Linked DNA regions of Homo sapiens. The protein of the gene in region 1 purifies or fractionates together with the protein of each later gene. This does not show direct contact. Each region holds a gene or a part of one and is shown in the gene's direction. Other genes may lie near its edges.

What was found. Proteins that work in one complex are often made in the same cells at the same time.
Region 2: the proteins of IFI27L1 (region 1) and ELOA purify together in Homo sapiens (affinity purification with mass spectrometry; one large-scale study listed by BioGRID and IntAct). This does not show direct contact.
Region 3: the proteins of IFI27L1 (region 1) and RRP1 purify together in Homo sapiens (affinity purification with mass spectrometry; one large-scale study listed by BioGRID and IntAct). This does not show direct contact.
Region 4: the proteins of IFI27L1 (region 1) and MAP9 purify together in Homo sapiens (affinity purification with mass spectrometry; one large-scale study listed by BioGRID and IntAct). This does not show direct contact.

The regions. Positions count from the first base shown.
Region 1 is NC_000014.9:94,080,091-94,084,109, forward strand, and holds the start of IFI27L1 (interferon alpha-inducible protein 27-like protein 1 precursor), read left to right. Parts: upstream 1-1,219; 5' UTR 1,220-1,359; intron 1,360-4,019. UniProt on the Homo sapiens protein: Plays a role in the apoptotic process and has a pro-apoptotic activity.
Region 2 is NC_000001.11:23,749,843-23,753,514, forward strand, and holds part of ELOA (elongin-A), read left to right. Parts: coding exon 1-106; intron 107-1,002; coding exon 1,003-2,188; intron 2,189-2,564; coding exon 2,565-2,676; intron 2,677-3,672. UniProt on the Homo sapiens protein: SIII, also known as elongin, is a general transcription elongation factor that increases the RNA polymerase II transcription elongation past template-encoded arresting sites.
Region 3 is NC_000021.9:43,792,449-43,796,120, forward strand, and holds part of RRP1 (ribosomal RNA processing protein 1 homolog A), read left to right. Parts: intron 1-223; coding exon 224-281; intron 282-870; coding exon 871-956; intron 957-2,740; coding exon 2,741-2,802; intron 2,803-3,672. UniProt on the Homo sapiens protein: Plays a critical role in the generation of 28S rRNA.
Region 4 is NC_000004.12:155,374,122-155,378,507, reverse strand, and holds the start of MAP9 (microtubule-associated protein 9), read left to right. Parts: upstream 1-1,542; 5' UTR 1,543-1,737; exon of another isoform or gene 1,738-2,132; intron 2,133-2,593; 5' UTR 2,594-2,657; coding exon 2,658-2,732; intron 2,733-3,486; coding exon 3,487-3,571; intron 3,572-4,386. UniProt on the Homo sapiens protein: Involved in organization of the bipolar mitotic spindle. Required for bipolar spindle assembly, mitosis progression and cytokinesis. May act by stabilizing interphase microtubules.

The DNA.
Region 1 (4,019 bases):
CTAAGTTGTACATTTTATGTAAATAAAGAAAATTATGTAAAGCACGGAGGATGAAACCTGCCACACCTAAGTCGTTCTGAAGGCAGAGTAAGAATCTCAGGGGTTTTTCTTGTGGGGGCAGGAGGGGTGAGCTTTATTAAAAGCGTACTGCGCTTGCTTCCTTCTCAAGCCTTGCCTGAGAGAGCAAATGCCTGCTCCACCATCCTTTCCTTTGCCAAGCGTCTTAAAACCCATCCAGTTTCTTCATCATATTTTAAGTGGCTTAATGGCCATTTAGGCCCAACTCGTTTGGGTGGAACTCGATCCAGGTTTTTCCTTTTCAGAAAGGCCAAGAAAGATAACAGATTCCGTGAAAAAGACCAAGGTAAACTTTGGTTCAAATCCAGATCCACCACTTGTCAGCTGTGGCTCTGCGGTGGACGTATTAATCTCTGAGTCTCTTATTTCCCAGTCTGCACAATGGGAAAAACGAGGACATCTGTCCCACAGAATCCTTATACGCCACTACGAAAAAGTGACGCACGTCAAAAAAAACCGCTGAGCATGGCGCCCGGCGAGGAGAGCACGTTCGCACACAGTGCCCGCCGGACCCGCTGCGCCACGGCAAAAAAACAAAAAACAAACAAAAAAAAACACAAAGAAACACGCGGGGTTCAACAAGGAGAGGGCGAGGGGTGCCACGCGAACCGGGCGAGGACACGGAGAGCGCCAGGCAGAGTAGAAGGGCCTCTGTCTCCTCGTGACGCCGGTCCCGCGCGGCCCTCTCGCTTTGTCTCAGGCACGAACGCGCGCACGAAACCGAGAAACCGAGAAGCCGAGAAGCCAAGGCCGTCAGGCTCTGATGACCGGACAAGGAGCCCAAGGCGCGGGGACCGTGGCACGCAGCTCGGTTGGACGGCTTGGGCCGGCGGCCGCCCTCTCTGGACCCGGGAACCCACCGGCCCAGAGCGACCCGCGATAGGAACCCGGGTTCCTGGCCTCAGCCCCTCTCCAGAGTCGGCTCCAACCCCGCTCGTTTTGGTACTCACCGTGTGGAGACGCCACCGCAGCTCCGTCAGTCGCGAGTGAAGAACCTCAGAAACCGCCGCTGTACCTCAGCTGCAGCAGCAACTGCAGTTCCGGGGCGGGACCTCCACGCACGTACTCGTGCGCGCTGGGGAGGAAGTCCCGCCCCTATGGCAAACTCAGCTACCTGATTGGCTGCCTCGCGGACCGCAGCAGTGCCGGCGGGAGAGCTGGCTTGGGGCGCTGGCACCTCCTCTTACAGCTTTACTCCTGCCAGCTTGGGAAAAGGCCGGAGAAGGTGAAATTCTGTGTGCTCCCTCCGGCGAGAGACTTTGTCAGCTCCCGCACAGTAACGTAAGTTTTCTTGTATTCTTAGTGTAGTTTCGTTACCGGAAAGGGGTCTCGATCCAGACCCCAAGAGAGGGTTCTTGGATCTTGCACAGGAAAGAATTCAGGGTGAGTCCGCATAGCAAAGCAAAAGCAAGTTTATTAAGTACTTTACTCCGTAGACAGAGTAGGGCGTTCCCGAAGGTAAGAGGACGAACGCGTCCATCCTAGGTACAATGCTCGTACCTAGATCATAGGGAGATGTGCTCTGCTACAAGGGTGACGTGTGATGAGTGTTCCTTGTATTGTAATTGTTTTGGGGCGCCATGAGCTGTGCCCATATAAGATACAAACGTAATTGATAAATGTTGTGTGTGTTCAGACTAATCCACTGACAGGCCGTTCTTCCTTCTCTCTCCCTTTCCTTGGGTCTCTATTCCCTGAGACACAACAGTGTTGAAATTAGGTCAATTAATAACCCTACAATGGGCCTCTAAGTGTTCAAGTGAAAGAAAGAGTCGCACATCTCTCACTTTAACTCAAAAGCTAGAAATGGTTAAGCTTAGTGAGGAAGGGATGTCAAAAGGCAAGATAGGCTGAAAGCTAGGCTGAAAGTTTGCACCAAAAAGTTAGCCAGTTTGTGAATGCAAAGGAAAAGTTACTGAAGGAAATTAAACATTTTACTCTAATGAACACATGAATGATATGAAAGCGAAACAGTTTATTGCTGATTTGGAGAAAATTTTAGTGGTTTGGATAGAAAATAAAACCGGCTACAGCATCCCCTAAACCCAAAACCGAATCCAAAGCAAGGCCCTGATTCTCTTCTATTCTATGATGACTGAGAGAGGTGAGGAAGCTATAGAAGTTTGAAGCTAGAAGAGATTATTTCATGAGGTTTAAGGAAAGAAGCCGTCTCCAGAACATGAAAGTGTAAGATGAGGCAGCAAATGCTGATGGAGAAGCTGCAGCAAGTTATCCCCAAGATCTAGGTAAGATCGTTGATGAAGGTGGCCACTGAACAGCAAGTAGTCAATGTAGACAAAACAGCCTTCTATTGGAAGAAGACGCCATCAAGGACTTTCATAGCTAGAGAGGTCAATGTCTGGCCTCAAAGGCCAAGCTCACTCTTTTGTTAGAGGCTAATGCAGCTAGTGACTTTGGATTGAAGCCAGTGCTTGTTTACCATTCTATTATAAAAATCTTAGGTCTCTTAAGAATTACGCTAAATATAATCTGCCTGTGCTCTGTAAGTAGAACAACAAAGCCTGGATGACAGCACAACTGTTCATAGCATGGTTTACTGAATATTTTAAGCCCACTGTTGAGGCCTACTGCTCAGAAAAAAGGATTTCTCTCAAAGTATTATTGCTCATTGAAAATGTGCATAGTCACACGAGAGCTCTAATGGAGATGTATAAGGAGATGAATGTTGTTTTCATGTCTGTGAACACAAGATCCATTCTTCAGCCCATGGATCAAGAAGTAATTTTGCATTTCAAGTTTTATTACTTAAGATACATTTCGTAAGGCTATGGCTGCCATAGAGAGTTATTCCTCTGATGGATCTGGGCAAAGTATATTGAAAACCTTCTGGAAAGGGTTCACTATTTTAGATATCATTAAGAACATTTGTGATTCATGGGAAGATGTCAAAATATCAAAATTAACAAGAGTTCGGAAGAAGTTGACTCCAGTTCTCATTGATGACTTTGAGAGGTTCAAGACTTCAGTGAAGGAGGTAACTGCAGATGTGGTTGGAAATAGCAAGAAAACTAAAATTACAAGCGGAGCCTGAAGATATGACTGAATTGTGGCAATCTCGTGAGAAACTTGAATGGATGAACAGTTCCTTCTAATGTATGACCAAAGAAAGTGGTTTCTTGAGATACAATCTACTCCTGGTGAAGATGCTGGGAACACTGTTGAAATGACAATGAAGGATTTAGAATATTTCGTAAACTTAGTTGATAAAGCAGTGGCAGGGTTTGAGAGGATTGACTACAATTTTGAACATTCTACTGTGGATAAAATGCTACCAATTAGCATCACATGCTACTGAGAAATCTTTCATGAAAGGAAGAGTCAATCCATGCAGCAAACTTCATTGTTGTGTTATTTTAAGAAATTGCCACAGCACCTCACCTTTCAGCAACCACCACCCTAATCAATCAGCTGGTTTCAGAAAAAAAGAAAAGTATATTATGGCAGAGGGGGACACAGTCAAAATGTTAATAATTGGTGAATTATTGGTGCTAGAGTAAGGGTACGTGAGTGTTCATTGTACTATTCTTTCAACTTTTTTGAGGTTTAAAACTTTTCAAAATAAAGAGTTGAGTAAATTGTTTTGATTTAAAAATTATGAATTAAAAAGAAATTGGTTTAAGCCAGGTGTGGTGGCACATCCCTGTAGTCCCAGCTATCCAGGAGGCTGAAGAGGGAGGATCGCTTGGGCTCTGGAGTGTGAGTCCAGCATGGACAACATAGCAAGACATCATCTTTAAAAAAAGAAAAAGAAAGAAGGAAAGAAAGAGAGTCAATTTTAATTTTTAAAAATGGGGGAGGGGGAGATGTCAACCAAAAGCAAAATGATGGCAAAGTTTCCATTATAGTAGTGGAAACATAGGTATTTTTTTTCCTTCTTCTCAATATTCTAATTTTAAAAAATAGTAAGAATAAACTATTTT
Region 2 (3,672 bases), on another chromosome or scaffold:
AGACTGGGGTTGGGAAAACAGTAAATAGCTTGCGAAAACACGAGCATGTTGGAAGCTTTGCCAGGGACCTAGTGGCCCAGTGGAAGAAGCTGGTTCCTGTGGAACGGTAAGAACATTTCTCTTTAGGTTTGTTCAATTTCATGGTTAAATTTACAGATAGAAAAGGTTTTCTTTATTATTTCTCTTTTGCCTTCTGAAATTGTTTTGCCTCAATTATAAAAAATAATCCATGATCATTGTAGAATATTAGAAAATATTAAAAATAGAAATCAAAATTTCCTATTTCTATCACGCAAAGACAAACGTTATGAACATTTTGGTACGTTTCTTTTTTTTTTTTTTTTTTTTTTTGAGACAGAGTCTCGCTCTGTTGCCCAGGCTGGAGTGCAGTGGCGTGATCTCGGCTCACTGCAAGCTCCGCCTCCCAGGTTCACGCCATTCTCCTGCCTCAGCCTCCTGAGTAGCTGGGACCACAGGCACCCGCCACCACGCCCGGCTAATTTTTTGTATTTTTAGTAGAGACAGGGTTTCGCCGTATTAGCCAGGATAGGATGGTTTTGATCTCCTGACCTCGTGATCTGCCCGCCTCGGCCTCCCAAAGTGCTGGGATTACAGGCGTGAGCCACCGCGGCTGGCCTGGTATGTTTCTTTCTAACTGCTCCTTAAATGGCATTTTTTTAAGTTGTGAACTAGATAAATAGTGAGCAGCCCCCATTTTATATAACAAATTAAACATGTCCCCATGTTTTAATAAATCTCCACATTTTCATGTATATGAGATATTTGATCTTTGCATCTTGTGGTTAAACTCACCATTTCTCATTTGGGTTTTCCCAGTTTTAAGATTTGAGTATCTTTAAGCATAACCTACTTATCTTCTTCTTAAGACCTTGTTGTTTCTAACTCTGCATCTTCACTTCTTTGGTGAGTTCAGATTCTGTGACTTTGTCCCTCAAGAAGCAAGATTTAGACCTACTTTGTCTGCTTTTTCTTTTATTTTAGAAATGCTGAGCCTGATGAACAGGACTTTGAGAAGAGCAATTCCCGAAAGCGCCCTCGGGATGCCCTGCAGAAGGAGGAGGAGATGGAGGGGGACTACCAAGAAACCTGGAAAGCCACGGGGAGCCGATCCTATAGCCCTGACCACAGGCAGAAGAAACATAGGAAACTCTCGGAGCTCGAGAGACCTCACAAAGTGTCTCACGGTCATGAGAGGAGAGATGAGAGAAAGAGGTGTCACAGAATGTCACCAACTTACTCTTCAGACCCTGAGTCTTCTGATTATGGCCATGTTCAATCCCCTCCATCTTGTACCAGTCCTCATCAGATGTACGTCGACCACTACAGATCCCTGGAGGAGGACCAGGAGCCCATTGTTTCACACCAGAAGCCTGGGAAAGGCCACAGCAATGCCTTTCAGGACAGACTCGGGGCCAGCCAAGAACGACACCTGGGTGAACCCCATGGGAAAGGGGTTGTGAGTCAAAACAAGGAGCACAAATCTTCCCACAAGGACAAACGCCCCGTGGATGCCAAGAGTGATGAGAAGGCCTCTGTGGTGAGCAGAGAGAAATCACACAAGGCCCTCTCCAAAGAGGAGAACCGAAGGCCACCCTCAGGGGACAATGCAAGGGAGAAACCGCCCTCTAGTGGCGTAAAGAAAGAGAAGGACAGAGAGGGCAGCAGCCTGAAGAAGAAGTGTTTGCCTCCCTCAGAGGCCGCTTCAGACAACCACCTGAAAAAGCCAAAGCACAGAGACCCAGAGAAAGCCAAATTGGACAAAAGCAAGCAAGGTCTGGACAGCTTTGACACAGGAAAAGGAGCAGGAGACCTGTTGCCCAAGGTAAAAGAGAAGGGTTCTAACAACCTAAAGACTCCAGAAGGGAAAGTCAAAACTAATTTGGATAGAAAGTCACTGGGCTCCCTCCCTAAAGTTGAGGAGACAGATATGGAGGATGAATTCGAGCAGCCAACCATGTCTTTTGAATCCTACCTCAGCTATGACCAGCCCCGGAAGAAAAAGAAAAAGATTGTGAAAACTTCAGCCACGGCACTTGGAGATAAAGGACTTAAAAAAAATGACTCTAAAAGCACTGGTAAAAACTTGGACTCAGTTCAGAAATTACCCAAGGTGAACAAAACCAAGTCAGAGAAGCCGGCTGGAGCTGATTTAGCCAAGCTGAGAAAGGTAACCCCTTCAGCCCCTTGGTGGCTTCCCACCCAGAGCACCTGGCCCTGCAGAGCTCAGAGGATTGCCCTGCCACTGTTTTCCTTAGCTTGCTTTTGGGGGGCATGTTGAATTTCAGTGTGCAGTAATTTCCTCTGGGCTTCACTGGTTGTCAGGGTATATGGTACCGCAAATAAGAATTTTCTGCATTATTCTCTTGTGATGGGCTCATCTGTATTTATTTCCTGACTGAGGTGGTGTCAGACATGACTGTGGCCCCCTCCAACCTGGATCTTCCTGTGCAAGATGTCCAGTTAATGCTCCCGGGAATAGACTGTAGGAAAGAGAGCTGTGCTTCTACTCACTGACTCTCCACCCATGGGTCTGTCCCCTGCAGGTGCCTGATGTGTTGCCAGTGTTGCCAGACCTCCCGTTACCCGCGATACAGGCCAATTACCGTCCACTGCCTTCCCTCGAGCTGATATCCTCCTTCCAGCCAAAGCGAAAAGGTAATTTTCTATATCTTCTTTTTCTTAATGGGAAAAAGATTTAAAAATTCATTCAAGGCAGGGTACAGTGGCTCACACCTATAATTCCAGCACTTTGGGAGGCCGAGGTAAGAGGATTGCTTGCGGCCAAGGGTTCTAAACCAACCAGGCGTGGTGGCTCACTCCTGTAATCCCAGCACTTTGGGAGGCCGAGGCGGGCAGATCACCTTAGGTAAGAAGTTCGAGATTAGCCTGGCCAACATGGTGAAACCCTGTCTCTACTAAAAATACAAAAATTAGCCAGGCATGGTGGTGCGTGCCTGTAATCCCAGCTACTCCGGAGGCTGAGGCAGGAGAATTGCTTGAACCTGGGAGGTGGAGGTTGCAGTGGGCCGAGATTACGCCATTGCACTCAAGCCTGGGTGACAAGAGGGAAACTCTATTTCAAAAAAAAGGAGTTCTAAACCACCCTGGTCAACACAGCAAGATGCTGTCTCTACAAGAGAAAAAAAGTAGCCAGGCATGGTGGCACATCCCAGGTACTCGGTAGGCTGAGGTGGGAGTATCACTTGAGCCCAGGAGTTCAAGGCTGCAGTGAGCTCTGATTGCATCACTGCACTCTAGCTTGGGTGACAGAGCAAGACTGTTTCAAAAACAAACAAAAAAACTATCACCATAACATCAGATTTTTGATGCATTTCCTAAGTGCATAGACTCTGAAGTTTGATGGCTTGGGTTTGAATCCCAACTCTGGTTTCTGCAAGTTATATGACCTTGAGAAATATCTTAATTTCTTTGGACCTTAGTTGTATATATTGTGTAAATGGGAGTTATAATGGTATCTGCCCCATAGGGCTCAGTTTAATGAATTCAGAAGTGATGCCTTTTTGCTCTGGGTTTATCACATAGTAATTGTTCAGTAAATTGCTGCTGCTGTTATTAGCAGCCCTTTATCCTATGTGTTACATAGGATTTTTGTCTGAAAGAAAAAAATGTCTAATTTTCATAGCAAAAGAA
Region 3 (3,672 bases), on another chromosome or scaffold:
CTAGAGGGGCCTCCCGTGGTTGTGTGAGAGCCTGTTGACCCTGGCTGTAGAGGGGTCTTTTGGAGCAGGGGTGAAACCTCCAGTGCACTGAGCTGAGACCCCCTGGAAGCCGACTCTCTGTGATGAGTGAGTGAGTGAGTGGGTGAGTGGGTGGTTGCGTGTGTGTCATTGTGAGAGCCTGGTGCTTCAGGGGCTGAGGGCGTTTTTGTTGTTTCCTACACAGGAAGAATTAGGAAGGACTATTTCCCAGCTCGTTCATGCTTTTCAGACCACGGAGGCGCGTGAGTATGCTCTGCTGTAGTTGGGTGCATTTGTAGATGTCAGAACCTCTGAGCATCAGAGCCACCAGACCCAGGAGGTTTGTGTTCTCAAATCCAGAGTAAGGAATGCCTAAGGGCAAGAGAGCGCCAGCTGGTGTCTGTGGGTGCTTAGCATGTGTGCAGTGCTGGTGTAAGTATTCAACATGGATTAGCTCATTTACCCAAAACCCTCATTTCGAGCCTAATGGGCTAATATCTTACACTTTAAAAATAAAGTGAAAAGCCAGGATAATGTCACCAAGAGATTGGACTGAATTCCGCCTGATGGTCCTGAGGTTCCTGCAGTTGATTTTTCTGACTCCTCTGTTCTCTGGTGACCGGAGTTGAGAAGTTCTTACCCTGCCTGTCTGTAGGACTCACTTGAGGAGCCTCTAAAAATCCTCATGTCCAGATCCTGGTCCAGCAAGATCCAGTTCTGGGGGTAGGGCCTGGGCATCAGCATTTTTTATCTATAGCTATGTAAAGAACGGGTTCCTCCATGTTCTCACCTCCCTCCCCAGAGTGGCTTCGTGCTCCTCAGTGGTTCTCTTCTGGCTTATTCCTTCTCCAGAGCACCTGTTCCTTCAGGCCTTCTGGCAGACCATGAATCGCGAGTGGACGGGCATTGACAGGCTGCGCCTGGATAAATTCTACATGGTGAGGCAGCCACCAGGGTGCCGGCGGGCGGGGGCAGCGCGGGTCTCAGTGCCTGGCCAAGCGAGACAGGCGGCACCTGGGCAGGGAGGCAACCTGAGGCAGTGCGACCCTGAAGCCAGGGGTGGGAGGTGGAGCCGAGACTCTGGGCGGTCCCTGACCAGGGCTCTGCAGCTTTGTCCAGTCTCTGAGGGTCATTGAATGGGCAAGGAATTCGACCCTTAAAACACCACACAAACTTTTGGTTCAGAGAAGGAAAGTGACGATTGCTCTCCTGGTGAGAGTCGATGGTGACACCGTTGTTACCTTGTCAAAGAGGCAGAGTGAGTCTGGAGGCGCAGCAGAGGAGCTGCGGTCACGCCCTAGCATGAGCCCTGGAGTGCTTAGCCTGCGAGGCTGGGATGGATGGTCACAGTGTGGGACTTCCTTTCCCTCCTCCCTCATTGTATCCCCGTTCAGGGCACTGATTTGCCCTGAGAATACAGGGGAACACTGGGGTTTAGAGGTGCAGCGTGTTGCTGCCCGGACCTGCTTCTCTCCTTCCCTCCTTCCCTCTTGTTGAACCATGAGGTCTCGTTACTAAGGTGGTGGTCATTGTAACCTTAGAGCAGGCCTGAGATACAGGGACATTGTCACTGTGTAGGAGTCGGTCACCCAATGGGGACACTGAAAGGGGCCATGTCCGGGTCTCACTGAGGACAGATGTTGATCTGCCACTCTGGCTTCAGTGTCCAGCTCAGATTCGGGCCAGGATTGTGCAGACAGCATATATACCAGTGATTCTAGAAGTGGAGACCAGGGCGGGAAAGGCCTGGAGCTCAAGAAGGAAGGAGGCTCCAGGGCAGGCCAGGGGCCCGGCCATGCACTCAGACAGAGTGCAGACTCTTAGGGACAATGGGGCTCTGCAGGGAGGCCACCCTACTGTTTTGCTGAGATGTGGCTGCTGGGTCCCTGGATGGATGCGTTCTGCTGCTTTCCATGGCTCGTTTCTGGGTGCCCCTTGTGTGGCTGAGTCCAGCAGCACAGCCTTGCGTCAGGGCTAGCCTCGGTGGCACCGCAGGGTGTTGTGGGGGATAGGCCTCCTGTGTCTGCAAGAACAGTGTCCGGGCTGCTGGGCTGTGCTCTGTCATCGGGGCTCCTGGGGGTCCGCGTGTCCTCTGCTGCTACTGACTGCAGCTCAGACCCCACTCTGGGCGTGTGGGCATGCTGGGTCAGTAGCCTAAAGGGGGGACAACTGCAGAAGGGTGTTGAGCCCCATGGAGGGAAATGGCATTGTTGATTCACGGGTGAGGCTTGGCGGGAGGGCCTTCGCTGTGTAGTGGACCGCAGAGGAAGTGAGCTACATTCTGCCCGTTGCGGGGGGTTTGGTGAGGACCAGCCGTGTTTCAGACCTGGTTTTGCGGAGGGCTCCACCGCCCGTGGGGGTAGCCGTGCCTCTTTCCTGGTTCTCCCTTATGAATCGGACTGTTCCGTTTCAGCCCCGGTTTATGGACTGGAGTCGTAGGACTGTCCCCTATTACCCCCGACCCCCCATGCACCTGCTTCCTGCCAGCTGGGGCCTTGGAGCCGGGGATAGGGCATGTTCTCAGCCCAGGGTTCTGAGGGCTTGGTGGTGTGTCCTCCAGCGTCTGTCTGTCAGCAGCTCTGGGGGCCGGCTGTGTGCTGGGGCCGGCAGAGGTCACCACGGCCATGACTTTATCCTGCAGCGGATGGTGGTACATGGGGATGGGTGGTCTGGCGAAGTAGGGCTGGGCTTCTGCTAATGCCAACCTCCTTCTGTGTCAAAGCTCATGCGGATGGTCCTGAACGAGTCCTTGAAGGTTCTGAAGATGCAAGGCTGGGAAGAAAGGTGGGTGCGCGGCGGGCCTGCTCTGGGGGGACGCTGTTCTCGGGGACCGCAGTCGTGTTTGTCATTTGATTCTTTGCCATAAGGAGATGTCAGCCTTTATATTAACGCATGCCCCCAATCGTGCTTAGAGAGAAGATAGTTTTTAAAGTAAAAATCAGTTTGTGTGTTTGTGGAAATGATGCCATTTATCCTCAGGCTTGGAGGCCAGTTCTCACTGGGAGTCAGAAGGGAGTTTTTTAATGAAAGGGTGTCCAGCCGAGGAGCTTCTTATAAAAACACGGCATGTTCCGCTTCATTAGCAATGCTTTTTGTTTTTTTGAAATAGGTGTCACTGTTGCCTAGGCTGGAGTGCAGTGGCGTGATCTTGGCTCAACTACAGCCTTGACCTCCCGGGCTCAAGTGATCCTCCTGCCTCAGCCGCCCAACTGGCTGGGACTGCAGATGTGCACCACCAGGCCCACGTAATTTTTGTATCTTTTTTTGGTAGAGACGAGTTCTGTCCTGTTGCCCAGGCTTGTCTCAAACTCTTGGGCTCAAACAATCTGCCTGCCTAGGCCTCCCAAGTTGTAAGCAATGTTAATTGCTCCTAATTCTAAAAATATGTAAATTGGCTGGGCGCGGTGGCTCACATCTGTAATCCCAGCACTTTGGGAGGCCGAGGCGGGCAGATCACAAGGTCAAGAGATCGAGACCATCCTGGCCACCATGGTGAAACCGTGTCTCTACTAAAAGTACAAAAATTAGATAAATGCATAGAAAAGAATTAGCAGGCTGGTTATGGTGGGTTAAGGGGATCTCTTGAGCCCAGGAGTTTGAGGCTGCAGTGATCTGTGACTGAGCCACTGCACTCTAGCCTAGGTGATAGAGTGA
Region 4 (4,386 bases), on another chromosome or scaffold:
TTGGCTGTAGATATTCAGTGAATGTGGGAGAAGGGCCTATATATCTATTGATGACAGAAACTGAGAAATAGAACATAGAATATTGGCTTGTGAGGAGGAAGGGTTTGGAGTAATAGGAGAGCAGTCACTGAGTATGTGAGGACCTAGGAGAACTTAGAAATCTTCCTTCTACAGCAGTCCCTATTTGAAAAGCCCTCAGGGAGATAGTTTATTCAGAAAATAGTTTTGCTTAGCTAAGATAAGAATGCGATTATAGAGGAAAAAGTGAGAGAATGTTTTACAGTGGAAAGGAGGTTCCAGGAGCATGAGGTGAACCTGGAAGGGTTCAACAGTAGTGCCATGAGTTAATAGAAAATAGGGAGCATTTTCTATTCTGGGTATGTGTGTGTAGAGGTGGTGTACATTTTCAGCTTCATAAATGGATACAGATGAGTGGACATATATATATAATATATTATATAATATATATTATATATATAATATATTATATAATATATATAATATAATATATATATACTATTAGTTCTGTCCATCTAGAGAACCCTGATTAATACAGCATTGTATTTTACTAAATTTCTTATTTCTTGTTATGCACATTTAGTTTTTCAATACATTGATTTATTAAATTTCTATCTCAATGTGATTTGTTTATACAAAATTGAATTAGTGAAATATTAACATATTTTAGAGATGTGGAAAAAATACCAGGTATGAGTTTAATTACTAGTCAATGAATTCATTCAGATAATTCAACTAGGATTAAGCTTTTTAAAAATTAAAAATAGTAAAAATTCATATTATTTTAAAGACTTTCAATAAACGTTTTTGGTTTTTATTTGCTTTAAGAATTTCCTATGCGAATTAAATGATGTTGATTTTGTTTACTTTAGTAGCACATGCTCTTTTAGCCTAGTGGATCATTTTGTTTGGTTTGATTGGAATAAGATTACTCACTAAGTATACAAAGAGGGGGAGTTTTACATTCAAGTAAGATGTCAAATGGGCTTTCAGTTGTGTCCACAAGAGCTGAGGTCTCTCCAGGCCCTTTGCGGCTTAGTTGCATGAAGAGCATATCTAATATCGAATACAATTCCAGGCACTCTTCCAAGTGTTCCACTTGTATTATTTCATTCAATTTTACAGCAACCTTTCAGGTGTCTATTATTAGTACACTTTTGTTTTCCCCCAGAAGAAGAAACTGAGTCATAAAGACCTTAACTTGGGACAATCACGTGTGTAGGAAAGGGGTACCAGGATTCAAACCTGCAGTCGGAAACAGGGTTCTGCAAACTCACTACCGTACTATTCTGTCCCATCCACTGACACCGTACTTCGATTCAGAGAACTTCACGTCCTAACTGTGGCAAAACGACGAATGTGCTTTATTTGCAACACGTGCAGATAAGGACCCTTACTCTATTGGCAAGAGTAAGGCTATCTGGGTGGGAGTTGGGCGGGTCCTGTCTCCTAGGCAACAGCACATGCACACAAGCGACCAATAATGAGCCCCTCTCCAAAGACCCAGGAAGGTGATGTCACTTCCTTCGTCTGGGTGGTTGCCCCAGCGACACGTTGGGCCGAAGAGCGGTGTTGGGTACCCGAGAGACCCGGCGGTGGGGAAGTCACTTCCTCCCGAAGACGCTGTTTCCTAGCAACCGCCCTCCGCCTCTGTTATTAGCCCCTCCTCCTCGCTCGGTCCAGGACCGGCTCTGCGGGCGCCGCCAGGCCCAGACCAAGGTGAGCAGCTCCTACCCGATGCTTGGCTCTTGATTCTCAGGGTCGCGGAGAACTGGCCGCGGGCGTCCGGGGCCGGGAACAGAAAGCGGGACCTGGGGGCCATGGGGGATCCGGACAGAGACCGCGCTTGGACGTGCACGGGCCTGGCGTTCGCTGGTGCTCAGCATACGGCGCGGTGAGGAGCGGCGAGCACCCGGACGTCACCTGGCCTGGTAGGGAACGGAACCCGGGGCGCACAACGCTATGGGCGGCCCTGCCAGGCCTCTGCTCCGAGTACGGGAAACCGCGATTTTAATGCGGCTCATCGCGAAAGCTTCGTCGTTTTGTCTGGCTCTCTTTAACACTTTTGTGAGAGGAAAAATTGGCTTGCAATACATCTCGCTGGCTGTTTGCGGGTTAGCATTACGATCTTTTTCTTTGAATAGCGCTGTATGCAAATATATAGATACATTTTTTTTTTGGTGGTGGTGCTCATAATTTTTACGCCGACGATCCTTTTGATGGCCTTTTAAATAAGACGTGACTTATTTTGAAGGCAATGTTATACTTTAGAAGAGAGGTGAAAAATAAGGTGTTCTATTTTAATTGGCAGCATTTTGTCGTATTAACTTGTAATCATTTATTTGCAGACTTTTTAAGTAGTTGCAAAACTATTTTAGGATAACTTCCATTTGAATTTTTTTAAACAAGCTTGTTATGAGAATTTGCTATTTCTTTACAAGAACCTTTTTAAGTGAAGATGTAGCCCAATGTTCATATCAGATGCTTTTCTTTGACCTTTGTGGGGAGAGTAGAATCAAATGTAATAAAATAAATTCTGAAGCATGCGAAGTCTGATTTGTTTTGTATATTTCAGCTACTATCAGAAGTTGAATTCTAATAATTAGCTATTTTATAAAGGTAACGAGAAAAAATACACTATGTCTGATGAAGTTTTTAGCACCACTTTGGCATATACAAAGAGTCCAAAAGTTACCAAAAGAACTACTTTCCAGGTAAAGTATTTTTATTTGGAATCATTTCACAGTGTAAACACTGTATTAGATGGGTTGAAATTGGTGATTCTAGAACAGTCCTATATAAAGCAGGGGTAAATCTTATATTACTTTTGAGGTTTTGCACATGATCATGTTTGGGCTCCATCCAGTATTACAAACTCCCCTATATGGTTTTAAGACTACCAAAGTAGCCTCAATACTAGTTTCCTACTAAGTTAAAAGTTGAATCGCAACCTTAAATTGCCATTTTTATATAAAAACTTTTTTTTCTGTTGTAACATAATGTTTAAGTTTTTTTTTCTGTTGAGTCACTGCAATTTTGAACTCAGCCTCTAAGTTTGCAATATTGATTGCATCCATTTCTGAAATATGCCGAGACAAAAGCTCTTAAAAATACCAATTTCTTTCAAAATACCAGTTTTTAATAAATTATAATCTAAATTGAGCCCCTTCTTATTTGTTACCCTCCAGCTCTAATTATAACCTGCAATTAATTTGTTCCATAATGTGTGTCTCCTCTAGTTAAACTGCGAGCTCCATGAGGAAGGGCTCTTGTCTGTGATGCTCTGCATTGAGTATGAGGCGTAAAGTGGGTACATGGCATAAAGTGAGCTTGCAGGAAATATTTGTTAGATGAATGAAACCTAAGTTTGAAAGCAGTCGTTAATCAAGCATTGTTTGTTTAAAGAATTACTTGTGAATATGATACCTCCATGTTTGGATGGAAATTGATTTCAGTATCTCATTTCAGGATGAGCTAATAAGAGCAATTACAGCTCGCTCAGCCAGACAAAGGAGTTCTGAATACTCAGATGACTTTGACAGTGATGAGATTGGTATGTGACAGTATGGAAACGTGAACCACTTTTCTTCTTTTTGCTTCCTTAGTTTTGTATTTAGCCAGCCCCCCAACCACCCATCCCCTCAATCACGTATGTTAAAATAATACCTAAGCATTCACTAATTTTAGATTTTCAACTTTTTAATTAGTAGAAAGCCACTCTTAATTTTCAGGAAGTTGTATGATTTTCTTTTTTTATTGTTGTTTTGTTTTCTGAATGTGTATACGAAAATATAAATTAATTGATGGCAGGTTTGCAGTAAAAGGATGGCTGCCAGTGGTAAACCACATTGAAGAAGACAGGTTCATCTTTAAGATCAACCCTAGGAGGTGCTACAGCTAGTTAGTAACTAGTCCCACAGAACTAAACTTCGGTGCACATTAGAAGTGCTTTTATAAAGCTTGCTATAAATCAGATTTTTTTTGGCTGTGATAAGGGGTAAATTTAAAAACCACAGACTCTTCGTGTTTCATATATCAGTACTATTATAATTTGGTTTCTCTTAGCTATGTAAACATATTAACATTTTAGTTTCAGGTATAAGCATACAGAATTCTAAACTTGGTGTTTTTGTTTGTTTGTTTTTGTTTTTGAGATGGAGTCTCGCTCAGTTGCTCAAGCTGGAGTGCAGTGGTGCAATCTCGGCTCACTGCAACCTCCACCTCCCAGGTTCAAGTGATTCTCCTCCTTCAGCCTCCTGAGTAGCTGGGACTACAGGTGCCCGCCACCATGCCCGGCTAATTTTTGTATTTTTAGTAGAGATGGGGTTTCACCACATCGGCCAGGCTGGTCTCGAACTCCTGACCTTG